Linked DNA regions of Homo sapiens. The protein of the gene in region 2 interacts with the protein of the main gene of each other region in a biochemical or structural test. Each region holds a gene or a part of one and is shown on either strand. Other genes may lie near its edges. The genes, in order: HIVEP3, RUNX2 and SMURF2.

Region 1 (3,754 bases), on a different chromosome or scaffold from region 2:
ATAGTGGAGAGTTCTGACACATCATATGGATAGATGGACCAAATGACCTTCCAGACTCATGTAACTCTGGGAGGCTTTTTCTTTAAAGCAGCATAATTAAAGGGTTGAGAAAAACTTTTACTGAAAAGGACAGAGAGATAGAGTTTAGTTTACTCAGGAGAACAGAATAAGGTGAGACTTAAATGGTGAGTCACACTAAGCCTGCTGAAGATACAGCAGGAGGGACTAAGATTAAATTACAGCTGAAGTGATTCATGTTGGTCACTACAAAGATCATTTAACCCTTAAAAAGTTGTGTGGCATCATGATACATTGCAAAGCCAAGTTACAAAGCCTCATTTTCTGGAGCTGTTCTCTTTAAAGGTAAGAGGATGGACTCGAATCACCTTCTGAATTATCGGACAGCCCTGTGACATGATTATACCTTGGTGCCTGAGATGTTAGATGGGAAATAAACAGCAGCATCTAGTAAACTCTCCTGGGGTAAAAAACAAAACAAAAAAAAAAAAACCATCTTGTTTTCACCCAGTCTTACTGATTTTTTTTTAGTGTGAAGACAGAATGTTTTTGTCAAAAACAAGTTCTCCAAATTTATAAACCTGATTGGAGACATCTTTAGTTTCTTCTCAAACATGCTGGGAAAATAGGAATGTCACTGAGACTCCTTCACCATCCCCTCGCAGCCCCTATTCCCCGGGGGGCTGGGTAGATGGAGAAGCAGGGGGCAGGGGCTGGACCAGGGAGAGAGTGACAGGCTCTCTGTGGTAGGTCTGTGCCTTGTCACAGAGCCTCCTGGGCTCAGGTCTGTGGTGGCCGCGGGAGAGCCAGCTCCACGCTGTGTGGCTGGTGACATTTCCGGCTGCCAGGGCCCAGCCAATCAGTGATGGACCCAGCTTGCTTGGGCGATGACACATGAAATATGATAATTTTCTGCCAAAGGGCCCTGGAAGAGGGGAAGGAAGAGAGTGTGTGTGTGTCGCTGGGAGGGGTCCACACAGGAGCGCCTGTGATGAGGTGGGAGGGTGACAGTGCACTTGTTTTCACGGTTTGCCTGGCAGGACTAGGCAAGGGAGGGAATGGGCTGTGATGCTGGAGCGGCTGTAGGAGCGCCCCTGTAGCTCCCGAGGTGAGCCACTGCCGCTGCTCTTAGGCGGGAACCAGCGGAGGAGCAGACAGCGCCATGCTGGAGCTCTGGGGCTGGGGTGAAAAAGAAACTGTCAAAGACATTTGCCTTCTTAACACACGTGAGCAAGGTTAGGACTCTTGTTTCTTCTCAGCGCTACCTCTTTAAAAGCCAGAACAAAACTGCAGTAAACACCATCTGGGTGGCTGAAGTACTCGAAGAATAATTTTTTTCAAAAAAATTTAGGCTGGAGGTTGTCTCTCCCCCTACCCTGTTTTTCTACCTCCATACCTCCATGCTGACCCTTAAAAGAAAAGTGAAAAACAAAACAACAGAACTCAATAACAAAATCTTGAAGAAGGGCCTAAGTCTGAATCGTAAAGACTCTAACTAAGGTTCAGGTGGTAGTTCTGATTCCTGATTCTGGTTGAAAGAAAGTATGTCTTGGAATGCGATGTGGCTCTGGATTATGTTCGACTTTAGAAATAGTGCCAGAACTATTCTTTGATTTGTGGACATGGACCCTGAGACTGCAGAGCAAGGCAGGGCAGGGCAAGGAGTGCCCGTGTTGAGCTCTCAGGTGCAGAGACCCCACTCCCTTCAGGCACTGTTGAGGCTCCCCGGCCCCTGATCTGCAGCCAGAGGCTGGTGAGGTGTGACACGCTTGCTGACAAGAGTGCCCTGTCTCGTCTGACCCGTGAACATGGGTGTTCAGAAGTGAAGGATCATAGTGTTTACATAACGTGCCAATTAGTACTGAGAAGCTCATCAGTGCAATAAATATTTATGACTTGCATTTGCATTTTTTCTCTCCACGTATATATATATAATATGTGTGCATATATATGTGCATATATATGCACATATATTATACATATATGTTGTTTTTTAAAAAGCACCAATAAATGAAATCCTTATCACTGTGTGCAAGCCTACTGTGCCTTTAGGCATGGGACTGGCTTCCTGCGCTGGGAGTGACAGCTATTCCGAAGTGATAATTGGTGTACTGTGTCTTTAAAAGGTTAAACCCCCTTTCAAAAAAGGTCTGGACTCCTAGTGGAAAAGACAAGCGAGGCATGGGTTGGCTCTGGATTCAGAAAACAGCTGCTGATTAGATTCTGTGTCTGCAGGCTGAATTTATTCCGTGTTTTTCAGCAGCACGAATTCAAGAGGGATGCTTCTGTTTGGGTTTCTGATCGTGATTTATATTTATTCAGAGGAATAACAGAGGGTGGATCTGTTCCCGGCGCGAGCATGCTCACAACCAGCCGACTCTCCCATTATCCAGCTGCCTAGTTTGGTGCTTCAATGTACATGGCTATTCCGTGTGCATATGTGTGTATACAAACACGCATGCATGCCTGGATGGACATACGTATGCACAGGTTATTTTTTAAGGACAATTCTTTCAATAAGGTCTTTACCCCTTACTTGAAACAGGTGTTCATGAAAAAAATGCACAAAATCCTGCCTGGCCGGAATAATTCATGAAGAAGGGGCTGGATCCGTGGGTCAGAGAACACAGGACCAGTTTGCCATCCCAAGGCCGAAGGTAGGGGACTCTGGGTTTTTATTCGGCGGATGGATTCCTTGCGCTGTATTTTACCTTGTGATTGTGTTTTTGCCTGAGGCCGCACCGCGAAGCAGAATAGCGAGCTGCGATTCCATTTTGTGTATGCCTTTCTTAGGCAAGGTGTCCGGCTGCCGAGACGCAGGGGCCGGCCGGGTGGGCTGCGCGTGGCGGCCAGTGCCCCCGGTGGGCTGAGCGCGCTGCTCGGCCTGGTGCTGGGGAGCGGCGCGAGCCTCAAGTGACCCCCGCGCGTCAATCACAGGCGGCGGCGGCGGCGGCGGCGGCGGGGCTGTAACCCTATGCGCGCCGTGCGCTCCAGCGCTGCTTGCAGCAGGCTCTGCTGGGCTCTGCACCCGCGCACTGGCGGCCGGCTCCATAGGAGCCTCGGCTGGGGGGCTTAGGCATCGCGTTCCGTGGCACCGGCGTTTTCTTGTGCTGCCTTGGCTGCTGCTCCGGATTGTTTAGGCGGACTGCAGTAGCCTGCTTGGTTGAGAGTGAGATTCGTATGATGCTGGCTGCTGAGACAGAGGGGATAGCTTTCTTTTTCCCCCTTAATCCTAGCCCCCTGAAAATATTCCTAAAGCAAAATCATTTCCCAACCCCCAACCTGACCCAACCAAACCCAAACCAAACTCCTATTCTATAGGGGATTCTTGCCTCCCTGCTAGCAGAGAGAGTGTCCCCTCCAAGTTATGCCCCACATTTTACTATCTTTTAAATGGAAACACTGATGGTGCCGAATGGTCCCTAATGATATTGTCCAGGCTGCTGAGGACTCCTGAGTGTGGCAGTGGTGCAGAGGAACTTGGAGGCTCGGCATTGGTTTCCTTTAACGTAGCTGGTTTGGTTTCTGTTGCAGGTCAGGAATATTTCTGTGGCTAGGCCCTTCCTTGAACTTCGGGGGCAGTGGTTGCAGGAAGAGGGTCTGCAGATCTGGTCGCTGGGTGAGCAGCACCCTGGCCCTCTTTCTGGTATACGCTGACGTTTCTGGTAGCCCTTGGCATTGTAACCACAGCAGCCAGGTGCCCACTGGCTACCTGGAGTGCTTCGGTTTTGTTAAC
Region 2 (3,754 bases):
GTTTGGAAATCCCACAAGCTATAAGGACAAAACCCTCCTTTTGTTTACTTTGGATACTAATTAGAGATACAGATAATATGGATACGACTTATTTATAAAAGAGAAAAAATAATTTTTCTCTCCTTCACATGAATAACTGCATGTTAAATGAACGCTTTTACCTTTCAATGTAAAATCTGTTTACACATACAATAAGGCATGATAAATCCATAGTTAAAATAAAACACCAAAATGTATTTCTGGTTTTTTATCACTAAAAGTTTATTCTGAAAAGGTTCTGGACATTTGAAAAATAAAGGACTAGAATCATTCCCATACCCTACCAGTGTATTTTGGGAAAATCAAATTTTCTGTAAAGAAACTTATGAACATATTTGTACAGTTATTGTGATCTAATATGAACCAAAAGCAGATAATGAATAGCACTAGGAAGAACACAGGGATATTTTAGTTCTAACACCCTCCTGTCTCCCTAGCCCTTACCTCCCTGCACATTCCAAATAATCTTTTGTAATTCACTGTCTCCGCCCACCCCATTTACTTTATGCCACTCCTAGTTACTGTCACACTAGGAAGAAGTCTAACATGCAGATTTAGAGTGGCATGGATAAATGGCAAAAAAATGCCTAGAAAATTGGTCTGTTCGCCTTTATAATTTTGGTTGAAAAATACTCCATCGCTCCCAACTGATGAAAACAGGAAGCTCTATTCATAAATATAAAATTCACTGCCTATGATATATAATCATCCTAATAAGAAAATGAGTTCTATACATACTTGTCCAAAGGGGCAAAAAAGGAGATAGTTTCCCAAAGATGTTTCCAATTTTCTTCTGAATCAGAATTAGCAAATCGAGACGACTAACATACTCTGTCTGTGGGCATTATTCCTTACTACACACAGCATTTTGTAATTTATTTCAAAGCTTCCATTAGAAACAAAAAAATACATAGCTTCTGTTAACCCACTCTATTCTAAGCTCATAGAATCAAATACTGAACAATCTACATTATAACATAAGCATTTTACTTTATAGAAGATCTGCTATCAGAAACTCTATTAATGTCTAAACTACTTAAAGAACTATATAAACTGAATACACTTCAATGAAAGACAAAAAATATTACAATCATAAAGAAAACTAAGATTCATCCAATAAACTATATTACAATCCCTGTCATTCATTTTTTTAAGATCTTCAAACTAGGCATGAGATAATGGTATACATGAAACATTACATTTAATCTTTATTGTAAAGGCCGCCATCTAATAGATTGATAATAAACTAGACAGACGTGATTTAAAATTTGTAAAAGAATGCCCAGACTAACACTTTCATGACAGCCAATTATAGTCAAGCCTAGCAAGCAGTTTGCAACCAGACCTTAAGGTAAACTTTTTTTTTTTTTACAATGAGTTACAGATTCACAAGTTTAAGAAGACAAGAAAAAGGAAAACAGAAGGAATCCAGCCACCCAGCAAATATGAAGCAGACCCCAGAATGTGATACAGTCCAAAGATGTGAATTATTGTATATCATCACTGTTGTTCAGAATTTCACACAGACTCTTGAGCCAATTTTGTTCATTTTTCCACAGACACAATAATGAACTAAAAAGAGGAGGCAAAAAGGCAGAGGTTGAGCGGGGAGTAGAAAGGAAAGCCCTTAACTGCAGAGCTCTGCTCTACAAATGCTTAACCTTACAGGAGTTTGGGCTCCTTCAGCATTTGTATTCTATCCAAATCCTCATGAGTCACAAAAATTAAAAAGCTATATCCTTCTGGATGCCAGGAAAGGCCTTACCACAAGCCTTTTGTGAGAGAAAGAGAGAGAGAGAAAGAGCAAGGGGGAAAAGCCACAGTGGTAGGCAGTCCCACTTTACTTAAGAGTACTGTGAGGTCACAAACCACATGATTCTGCCTCTCCAGTAATAGTGCTTGCAAAAAAAAGGAGTTTTAAAGCTTTTGCTTTTTTGGATTGTGTGAATGCTTCATTCGCCTCACAAACAACCACAGAACCACAAGTGCGGTGCAAACTTTCTCCAGGAGGACAGCAAGAAGTCTCTGGTTTTTAAATGGTTAATCTCCGCAGGTCACTACCAGCCACCGAGACCAACAGAGTCAGTGAGTGCTCTCTAACCACAGTCTATGCAGTAATAGTAGGTCCTTCAAATATTTGCTCATTCTCTTTTTGTTTTGTTTCTTTGCTTTTCACATGTTACCAGCTACATAATTTCTTGACAGAAAAAAATAAATATAAAGTCTATGTACTCCAGGCATACTGTAAAACTAAAACAAGGTTTGGGTATGGTTTGTATTTTCAGTTTAAGGCTGCAAGCAGTATTTACAACAGAGGGTACAAGTTCTATCTGAAAAAAAAAGGAGGGACTATGGCATCAAACAGCCTCTTCAGCACAGTGACACCATGTCAGCAAAACTTCTTTTGGGGTAAGTGTTACCATTTTTAAAATCCTGTAAGATATGAACCTGTTAAACATAAAGGTATGATTCTTTGATAAACTGCTAGCTTTTCCAAATAGCATATTAAAGATCCTAATTATGCTATCTTGTTGCATTAAGAATTGAAAAATGAAATTTCTGTATATATTTGCATTTGGTATCTGTAATGTATCTAATTTTCAAAGTAATGACTTGAAATATACAAAATTAAATTATCTCACATTGATCAAAATGTTTTCTAGAGTTATAGAGGTGAGGATATGAAAACAGTAAAAGAAACAGTTTAATACTCTCATTAACCCTCACCAGAAGAAAAGTCAGATCCTAAATTAATCAAAGCATTATAAATTATTGACTCCGGCAGCTCCCAATATTTGAGCAAACTTCAAAAAGGAAGCAATTTTACAAAATAACAGACCACAGAATTATCTCAACATTATGGTCTACCATGTATAACACAGAAATAAACCTGTAGTACAGTTAACATTTTAACCAGCTCAACTAAAAGAAATCTACTTATAAATTCAAACTGTATCCTATCTAAATAAGTTTGTTTCTAAACAACTTTATATAAGTATACATTCAGCTGAAATAAAATTATGATAAGCACATCACAGCCATTTTTAAAAGATCTTTATAGTTGCCCAGGATATTAAAAAGTTCATGGAAGTATTTTAAAACTTACATGCAACTGCATTTTTCTATGTAATTTTAATTTTACATCTACACACTGTTATCCATAGACCTTGTTATAAACACACTGAAACACTGAAACGTCTAAGATTCTTTTAATCACATTCTTGGACCTACCAAAATGAATAACTGCTGTTTAGTCTCATGAAAAATAAAGCTCCATAAGGATACCCTGTATGATTTTTAAAAGCCACAACTATTAAACCATGCTGGACTTTAAAAGAAGTAGGCATAATCTTGTCCCTTAATATTTAATTTCAAGTTACTGTTGATACAGATATGTAAATGACTTTAACATTCATCAGCTGATGTGTTATTATAGCAAAATATCTAAACACACTTACAAGATTCTCTTTATGATCTCCAACATGTTCCAACTACAAGGCAAGTTTTCAAAAATTTTTCTTATATCCATTAAAATAAACCTTCTTGCTGTGTACATCTATATTAACTCTGCTTTTAACTTACAACTAATGACTGGAGTTTCCTTTACTCCTCCTACTTCACACATTTTAACTGGATACTACTAGAGGATCAGTCTCAGTTTAGGTCAAACAGAAATAATTAAACCTGAAGGGAGAAAAAATGGTTTCTCTTACAG
Region 3 (3,754 bases), on a different chromosome or scaffold from region 2:
GTCAGTTATGATTTCTGTATTCATTATGTACTTTTTTACTGAAAGATTTTAAAAGTAGGCACAATTATAAACTGCACTAGTGCTTTAATATAAAAGAGAGATGGGTCTGCAACCAGTAAAGTACTATCATGACAGCTGAACATTACTGATTATCAAATAGCATAGAAACCACTTCCATACATTTCAAGATGCTCTTCAGTACTCAGAATGCAATGTAAAAAAAACAAATTGTTTGAGAGGAAAAAGGTAGGCATAAGCATATTACCACTGCACAGTTACAACTATGACTAGCTTGCTTGTGGCAGTTGAATTTGGCCAAATGAAATACATTAAAATACTTAAAAACTACACAAGTAGTTCTCAACTTTTTTAAAGCAGCAAAATCTCCACTTTTTTTATCCCATCCATTCCTCCCCGCCCCACTGCACCCCATGAAAGCTTACTTGAAATTCCAATATACATAAGAAAAATGGGCTGTTCTGGGTAAAGGGGGTGGGGATATGGAGCCTAAGGCCCCTGCTCAAATACCAACTAGGCCTTCCCCCTCGCTCCCTCTCATTGCCCCTCTTCTCTTAAACCATTACTCCTGAGGCACCCCTGAGGAACCCTTTGGCTCCAAGAACACAGACTGAAACCCACTCCATCACATGAAACAGAACACAGAGGACCTATTTACTTGATAACTTTAAATTTTGCAGCTTAATTATCATGAAAATTTGCTTATTTCACATCAATGTAAAAAAAAACTGATAGTACATATTTTTGATGGTTGAATTTAAAAATCCAACTGTGATTTCAGATTTTTTCAATCCCTCACCCCAGAGTTTTCGTTGCTTCTGGATCATTCAACATGCACGCACCTTGAAAGCTAAATCTGGACGTTTCAAAATCAGATGCAGATCTTCAACACCAAGGGAAGCGGGATTCCCTTACTTCCAAAATGAACTCTTCAAAGTAATTTACGCCATAGAGTTAGAATCACTGTTCATACTACCGCCCCTCAACCCCACTTCATTCTGTTAGGTAAAAGCAGGATTTTCTAAGCTTATTAATAATCTTTAGAGCAAAATTCTTCCTTTTTCATAACTGTAGCTGATTAAAATTATGAGCAGTTAACGCTTTAGGATGGTTTTGTTAATGGAAACTTACACTGTAGTTAAAATACAATATAAATTAGGTGCACTTGTCAGAGACTTTGGTTTATAGGAATAGTCCATATATTAAAGATAAGCTGACCCAGCAAAATAACGAAAATCCCATCCCATCCACATGCTCTGAGAAGCTATAAAAATGCAGTATTTTAAGATTAAAAGTAAATCCAAAATACCTAATCATATTGACTCAAGATAAAAACATTAGGTTTTTTTTTTTTTAAAAGAGTCTCTTAAAAACAGGGAGCCCCTGAACACATCTTATTGTCACAAATAAATGACTAAGTTTAGACTAAATGGTTGCATTAGGAATTTGACAACCAAAATTATATCGCTGTATTCCAGGAAATCCGTTCTTGAAAAATGTAAAAAAGACCCACTTAGACTAGGTTGAAACATATAATGCAAAATATAATGCTCTGCTATAGAAAAACACAAACATGTAAATGGCTTAATTTCTTAAAGATGATTCTTTTAGCCAATTGTTTACAAAGGTAGAATAATTCAAAATAATTTTATTTTTTTTTACAAAGAGCAAGTACAGGAGCTGTTCAAGATCATGTATTCAATCAAAATGAAATGTGACTTGTACCGACTGCTGAAGTTGTCTTGATGTTTGAGAGACTTGAAATCTGTGAAGAAATTTGAATAGATTACCTTTTATAAAAATAGTAGTAGTCTTTAAGTGTAGAATACTGCCTAACTCTGGAAATGTAGGAAAAGTCAGCATTCTTTAGGTTCAAGATATTAAGTTTAAATAGCAGCTGAATGTGGCCTCATGGCAAAGCATAAAGACCTTTTTTTTCCTTGAAAAGGAATTTCAAAATTGTCCTTTCCCCTCACAGTGTCCTAAAATGTAAAAAAAAAAAAAAAAAGGGGGGGGGGGGGAGTGTTTTCCTGTATTTCAGCATATTCTTTGAAACTCTGCTGAAAGGAGGCTGTCAGTCAGGGTTGTATAAATAGAGTCCTGGGTAAATCCTTGAAGCTTGTCATTCCACAGCAAATCCACATGTTTCTTCAATGGCTGTTAGCAGCTTTTCATATAGCTTTTCATAGCTTTCATAGGGTGGAATGTCTATTCGATTGAAGCTGTGAATAAGCAAATCAAATTTTATACAGTTCATTCAAAATAAGTAAACTGGCCTAGCAAGTGTATACCAGTATAGCCACATCACTCTGTGTCACACAGAAAACTAAAAGGTATTTCTCTAAAACAGAGATGACCACTTTTGGGTTTTCCTACCAATTTCCGAATAATCTTAACTTTTAAATCACTTAAGTTGCTTATCATTCCCTTTAAAGGCCCATTTAACACTAGTAAGTACAATAAATAAAAAGTCAAATCTGTTTGGAACTAACACTTATGTACATGGAATGGGGAATACAGCTACAAAAATACCTTACCAAGTGTGGGCTTTCGGCAGGTTGTTAGTGCAGGCATCAATCTGGTGTATGGTAAAGAGTCTCGGGCCTGCAGCACCTGCAAATGAAGGAAATGTGGATGAAATCACTGCAGGTGCGTGCATTAGTCTCCAAAATCTTAAGAATAAAACTGGTAAGTTAACCACAGGATCTGGGGATAGGGGAATGCTAATGAATCCACACATACTACCAAAGGGCAGCAGGAAAAGCATCTGGGTTTTAAGAGCCAGAATTAACCTTGGATAAGGCTTAGATTCCGTAATAGGTTCACATTTCCATTTGAGAAAAAACTCAAGATTGAAATCCCTTTCTCAATTTCTATCTTTTATAGAAAGTCAATATCCCAAAAGCATGAGAAGAAAAGTAATCAGGCAAATCCAAGGTAAAATACATAGGCACACATTCAAAAAGATGACGACCTGATGCAAATTTAGATTTCATGACTCAAACTGGGCTGACAGCAAAAGAGCCGTCTATAGAATCCATTTCAGTTCGCACAGGCACCCCATATAAATACATGTAGCAGAAATACAACTTCACTTTATGCATCTGGGAAGTGTGAGGATGAGGAGCTCTCCTTACAGAGAAGGGCAGCACAGCTGAAAGCACGCTCTCCCCCCAGGGATTTCAGCGCATGCGCTGTGGGCAGCACTGTCGAATTATGTACCAGTGTCGCTTTGTGTGTCCTTATTCATCACCAGCAGCTTTGAAAATGAAGTGCTTAAGAGGTAAAGGAAGCAACTGCCACCCAGTGAAGCACCACAATCATTAGCAATATTACCAGCTCCTCCCAAAATTAACCAGCTTATTCCACAGAAAACCATTCTTAAAAAAGGAATATGGTTGTAAACAAATGGTCTGATGCCATGCAGTAATTAAAATGCTCTGACCGAACAGATGGTTTCCATGACCCATGCTGCTTCTGTCTAATAAGAGAAAGAACGAAAAGTAGAGGGGAGAGGCATCCCAGGCAGGTAAACGTTTCACCAGGTCAAGATGTGAACATGGAAGTGAACGACTTCCCTACAGGAATGTGCAACAGAATTAAAAGTAAGGTGACCAGAAAACAAAGGCAGAGCATCACCACGTACGGTCTCTAGCATGCGGCACTCACTACAATCAGAGAAGCCCGCAGAAAAGGCTCTTGGGAAGGGAACAAAAGAAAGGAGGGAGAAGAAGGT

The links.
Region 1: the proteins of RUNX2 (region 2) and HIVEP3 form a complex in vitro, tested with the Homo sapiens proteins (one study listed by BioGRID).
Region 3: of the proteins of RUNX2 (region 2) and SMURF2, one has a biochemical effect on the other in vitro, tested with the Homo sapiens proteins (one study listed by BioGRID).

What each region holds. Positions count from the first base shown.
Region 1 is NC_000001.11:41,917,334-41,921,087, reverse strand, and holds the start of HIVEP3 (transcription factor HIVEP3), read left to right. Parts: upstream 1-2,165; 5' UTR 2,166-2,675; intron 2,676-3,754.
Region 2 is NC_000006.12:45,326,337-45,330,090, forward strand, and holds the start of RUNX2 (runt-related transcription factor 2), read left to right. Parts: upstream 1-1,993; 5' UTR 1,994-2,124; exon of another isoform or gene 2,125-2,159; intron 2,160-2,324; 5' UTR 2,325-2,390; coding exon 2,391-2,448; intron 2,449-3,754. UniProt on the Homo sapiens protein: Transcription factor involved in osteoblastic differentiation and skeletal morphogenesis. Essential for the maturation of osteoblasts and both intramembranous and endochondral ossification.
Region 3 is NC_000017.11:64,543,708-64,547,461, forward strand, and holds part of SMURF2 (E3 ubiquitin-protein ligase SMURF2), read right to left. Parts: intron 2,632-3,754; coding exon 2,556-2,631; intron 2,241-2,555; coding exon 2,141-2,240; 3' UTR 1-2,140. UniProt on the Homo sapiens protein: E3 ubiquitin-protein ligase which accepts ubiquitin from an E2 ubiquitin-conjugating enzyme in the form of a thioester and then directly transfers the ubiquitin to targeted substrates.